Regions from separate parts of the Homo sapiens genome. Here region 1 is linked to region 2. Evidence: fine-mapped expression QTL. A gene starts in region 2. The other region holds a variant in brackets. All regions are shown on one strand. Distances are from middle to middle.

Region 1 (2,933 bases), 100 kb after region 2:
TGCTGGTAGGATATAGAATTGTAAAGCTGCTCTGGAAACTCATTTGGTGGTTGCTTTAAAAACTTAGTATGCAACTATCATATGTTCAGAAAATTGCCATTCTGATTATTTATCCCAAAGAAATGAAAATTTATATTCACACAAAAACCTGTTCATAAATGTTCATTGCAACTTTGCTGACAATAGTGAAAAACTATAAATAATCTAATCCTTCAACAGAGAATGTTTAAACAATTTTAGGACATCCGTGCCATAGAACACTACACAGCAATAAAAAGAAACTGTTGATACGTGCAACACTTTGAATGGATCTCCAGGGAATATGCTGGGTGAAATAGAAAATCACAAATGGTTACAATTTGCCATGGTTATCATTGGCAATATTATAGAAGTGAAGAACAAATTAGTAGTTGTCAAGGTTTAAAGATGGGGTAGACAGTGATAGAGGGAAAGGAGAAAAGTGGATGTGGTTATAAGAGGACAACATGAGGAACCCTTGTGGTGAGAAAATTATTCTGTAACTTGATAAATCTATGTCAGTATGATGGTTGTGAAGTTGTACTCTGTATATATGCTAACATTGAGGGAAACTGAGATCTGTCTGTATTTTTCTTACAACTGCATGAGAATCAACAATTATCTCAAAATTCAAAGTTTAAATAAAAGCAAGTAAACCAATTATGCTTGAATATAAAAATAAAACCATAAATTTGGAAATTTAAAGCAATTGTACTTCTAAATAACATATGCATTAAAAAAGAAACCATAGTGAAAATTAGAAAATATGTCAATAATAAGAATAATACTGGGGCCGGGCGCAGTGGCTCATGCCTGTAATCCCAGCACTTTGGGAGGCCGAGGTGGGCGGATCATGAGGTCAGGAGATCGAGACCATCCTGGCAAACATGGTGAAACCCCGTCTCTACTAAAAAAGATACAAAAAATTAGCCTGGCATGGTGGCGGGCACCTGTAGTCCCAGCTACTCGGGAGGCTGAGGCAGGAGAATGGCGTGAACCCGGGAGGCGGAGCTTGCAGTGAGCCGAGATTGTGCCACTGCACTCCAGCCTGGGCAGGCGACAGAGTGAGACTCCGTTAAAAAAGAAAAAGAATAATACTAATTATCAATACTTGGCATGTAAATAGAGATATAATTAAAGTGCAAATTATAATCTTAAACTCTTATGTACTAATAAATTCTGGAGATCTTATGCACAACAGGGTGACTATAATTATTAATAATGTATTTCATTCTTGAAATTTTCTAGAAGAGTAGCTTGTAAATATTCTCGTCACACACATGCACAGCAACTATGTGAAGTGATGGATATGTTAACTAGTGTGATTGTAGTAATTATTTCACCATATATACATATTTCAAAACATCATGTACACTTTAAATATATACAATTTTTATTTGCCAATTATACCTCAATAAACCTGAAAAAAAATATTACGTTACTAAAGAAAAAAAGGCAGAAAAATAAGAGCTGATCTTCCACTCTATGGTTGTTTTCTTTTTTTTTCCCGGACATAGTCTTACTCTGTTGCCCCCAAGCTGGAGTGCAGTGGTGCAATCTTGGCTCACCGCAACCTCCACCTCCTGAGTTCAAGTGATTCTCCTGCCTCAGCCTCCAAGTAGCTGGGATTACAGGTGTGCACCACTGTGCCCAGCCAAT[G/T]TTTGTATTTTTTTATTTTTTTTTAGTAGAGACGGGGTTTCACCGTGTTGGCCAGGCTGGTCTTGAACTCCACTGTAAGATTTTTAATACTGAATAACCTATAAGAAGATAATTACAATAATAGCAGAGGTTAATAAAATATAAAACAAAATAAAAATAAATAGAAGTCTATTTTTAATACCAATTAAAAATGGATAAATTTCTTAAATGACTTGTCAAAACTTAAAGACCAAAGTAATAATTAATAATAAAGATAATGAAAACGGCATGCTCAAAGATACGTAGATAAAACCACAAGCAATAGCTATGAACAATAGTTTACCAATACATTTGAAGTCTTAGATGAAATGATGAATTTTATAGAAAAAGGTAACTATCTAATTTGATGTCTAGAAATATAACAATTGTATAATTTGAATCACATGGTAAAAATTCTATCTTCATAACATCCCCACCCTCGAACTGATGCAGAGACCTGGAATACCACTGTGGTCTCTCTAGTTACAAATGGACTTAAGAAGATTACAGCCTTATCCTGAATCCATCTCATAGCAGCTCCAGTGTGGTTATTTCCCCAGTCCCAGGGTCCAACATCTGATTGTCCACTTTGTGTTTATTGGAATAATCACACTTAGTAACTAACAGAATGCCCATATGAAATAATCAGAATAAAAATGCTGTACTGTGGCAAAGGCAATAAACCTCTAATGCCTTTCCTTAGGGTTATATGGATGCTCCTGCTTTCTATTACAATATAGTCTAGAAGAACTTTGGTCATCACAATACCGCACAGAGCATTAAATGACCATTACATCAAAGACATTTTACTAATTGATCCTAGTGTGCAAGAAATAACAGGAATCTTAGGTACTTTATTGAGTACAATCACACAGGCTAGAGAGGGAGATAAACTCTGTGAAAGTTCGAGGGCTGCTACATCTGAGGTTTCTGGGAGTCTAGCAGTCTGAAAGGAGGTTGGACTATCTACTCCAACATGAAAGATAAGTTGCCACACCTTGAGTCACGCATCCTGAAGAAAATGGTACAATGCTTGGTAGACCTCTTATGATATGGGAGGCAAGACATTCATTTTAGAGTGTGCGGTTCCAATCCATTTTCTCGGTACCCCATGAGGCTTCCAGACTTCAGTGGGGTCTGTGAGGGTGGGTAGGGATATATGAGTATCGTATGTGTATGATATATATCGGAGAGAGTTACAACCAGAAGACCCAATGGTTTTGGAAGAGCCTATGATT
Region 2 (2,933 bases):
CACCAGTGGGAAAAGAACATGGATATGACATTACAGAGGGAGCATCTTGTAGCAAAATGGATTGGAATTACACTTTAGGATGGTGTGCAGCTTGTTTATTCAAGGAAGCTGATTGTGGTTACCATTTCAGCTCATTGTTTCCCTCTGATATTCAGATTTCTTTTATCCAAAGTTTTCTGAACATTTGACATATGCATGGAGTAGTAAGAACGCACATTCCTTTGGCTAGGGATTGCATAGTGTAACATTGAAAGGCTTTAGTTATTCTTGATAAAATCAGAAGAATCATTTTGGCAATGTCCATGTTTCCTAATATGTATTTAATTGTTCTAGTTATCTCTAGATTCGTAACACTTGCTTCCAATATTGGCTGCTTTTCACCAGTGGTTATCAGTAGATGTGCTGCATAGACATGTTCAACATCACATAAAGTGTGTCATGAAAAACAATAAAGCACAAATGTTTTTCCTTTCTGCTTCATTTCAAACCTTAGAGAAATTTGTCAGAGTAGATTTATGTTAACTCTATATGTTCCTTGATATTTGAAAAAGAAAGGAAATGAGAGGTAGCTCTCCTTTTTGTACGATAGCAAGGAAAATATGGACTCTCCTACATGGTTCTTCAGCAAGTTAGAATTCTTATTTCATATCTTACACAAGTTTTAAATCTATCCAGAGTTTGTTTTTAATCAACAGCCTTTACCCCCTTGTGATTGTCAGACTCGCATCTACCTTTGTTTTCTGGTAAAAATAATAATAATAATAATCTTTCAGTTCTGATGTGAACTGCAATAACACCTAACAATAATCTTGAGCACACAGACATTATACATTCTACTCTGGAAAGGATTGCAGAATATCTCTTAAAACTCAACAAAAGAATTTTTCTTAAAAACCCTCTAAGATACAAAGGAATAAAACTGAGACTTAAACATGCAGTGAGTCAATTGTTCATATGATTAAAAATAAGTACCTTCTTTATAATGAAAAGGAAAAGTAGCTCAATGTGTTCCTTAAATATAACTAACCAAAACAAATCTTAGCTGGCAATTTGAAGTTGCCGATGCTTCCTGGAAAGAGTTCAGACTCTCAGGTTGATGCAGTGTTCCCTCCCACAACTCTGACATGTATATAAATTCTGAGCTCTCCAAAGCCCACTGCCAGTTCTCTTCGGGGACTAACTGCAACGGAGAGACTCAAGATGATTCCCTTTTTACCCATGTTTTCTCTACTATTGCTGCTTATTGTTAACCCTATAAACGCCAACAATCATTATGACAAGATCTTGGCTCATAGTCGTATCAGGGGTCGGGACCAAGGGTAAGTGAGTGGTTTGGTTTTATAAACCATTTTTCTTTTTCCTCAGCTTGTTAGATGTTCAAGTATGCATAAAGTTTCTCATATATGCCTCAGGGTTTTTTTTCCTAATTATTATAAAGTAATAGGAAAAAAAGGAAAATGTGAGTATTCTGTGATTTATCTATGCACTTTTAAGCTTTAAGACTTAATTGCTCTCTAAATACCTTGAATATAATTGCTTTCTTATGAAATGTTATATAATTCTAATCTAATTAACACAATTTAGCTGGGCATTCTTTTATAATTCCATTTATTTATGTTTTTATTTTCTTCCAAAAATCTGAAATTGAGTTTTCAAAATTAAAAAATCTATTGTTAGGAACTATCATATGTATGCAAACAGCATTGAAATATCTCACATGATGTTAGAGAAAATTTTATTTAAATTACATATGAAGGTTAAATACTGGGTAATGTAACTAGTTCTCTGAATTCTTTGAAGCATTTAAGTTACTTTTAAACTCTGAATTCTGTAAAATTTGCAAAGGTAATTTATATTTTATAGAACTAATGCAACTACAACTAAGCATTTTTAAAATTACACATAATTTTGTAACTTATCCAACCATTTATAATTTTTTAAGCGGATCTTGGCACTTCTTCCTATGCCTCACAGGAATTTTCATAATGTTCACAAGCTTCTTTGACTTACAGTGAAAAAAGACTTCTGTCCCTTTAAGAGGGGAAGGGGAACCTTAAAATTGTGACAGAGGATGTTCTGATCTGTTACTTCCATTCAAAAAGATAAATTCTCCTTTGTGCAACCATATTGTTTCAAAGTTAATTTTAGCACATTTACTTCTGTGATTACTTACCTAGAAAATTACAGAGTATAGTGTCTGTGTACATAATAAACCTTGTCTCTTTTGCTCTCTGACCTCTCATTGTTCCAGAGAGCCCTGAAGTTATGGCCATCCTCCAAATGAGCACATGCTTGGTTTAAAAAGGGTCAGTAGATTATCTACCATTAAAAGTAATAAGGCACATAGAAATAAAATTACGTTCATACTGTTTGAATAGTCCTAGTTGGTTAACTTTTTGAAAAGCTTGTATTTTACTCTCAGAAATGTATAATTTTTCTCTCTCTCCCTGCCACCTCCTGTAGACTTTCGGTTTTTCAACAATTCAGTAGGATTGTGTCAATAATTAGATTTGTGCAAGGCTAGAATCATGTCTTTGGATATCAAATCCACATCTCAACATTTTCTTCTATCAACCAATCTTTAGATACGAAAAACTAGTCATTATTAGGACATTAACTTTTTTCCTTTCCCTCTATCCTCCAGCCCAAATGTCTGTGCCCTTCAACAGATTTTGGGCACCAAAAAGAAATACTTCAGCACTTGTAAGAACTGGTATAAAAAGTCCATCTGTGGACAGAAAACGTAAGTCTCTTTTTTTTTTCATAATATGTCAGTTCCAAAAACAACATCATGATGTATATGCCTTCCCCTGGGTGTACACACCATTCTTCTTGAAAATACTGACCAAAATTGTGAGAGTTATTTAAAGAAAAGAAAGGAATACATACGTGAATAAAGAAGTTCTCCCTGCATCTCCAATATTACTATTAGA

Direction of the effects. Positions count from the first base shown, and alleles are read on the strand shown. Sizes are in standard deviations (SD) of each study's normalised expression.
As copies of G replace T in region 1, the expression in aorta of the gene that starts at base 1,159 in region 2 goes up (small effect, 0.32 SD a copy in GTEx).

What was found. PIP is the estimated chance that this variant, and not a neighbour inherited with it, causes the effect. A credible set is the group of variants that fine-mapping cannot tell apart.
Region 1: its variant is the best candidate, but not a certain one, in a credible set for the expression of POSTN in aorta (GTEx, PIP 0.55).

The regions. Positions count from the first base shown.
Region 1 is chr13:37,496,464-37,499,396 of GRCh38, reverse strand. No RefSeq gene overlaps it. Among named protein-coding and RNA genes, the nearest start is that of LINC01048, 13 kb to the right of the region's middle. The variant G/T (reference allele first, on the strand shown) is at 1,678.
Region 2 is chr13:37,596,994-37,599,926 of GRCh38, reverse strand. POSTN (periostin) reads left to right here and starts at 1,159. Exons shown (of 23, transcript NM_006475.3): 1 at 1,159-1,319; 2 at 2,645-2,743. The coding sequence starts at 1,201.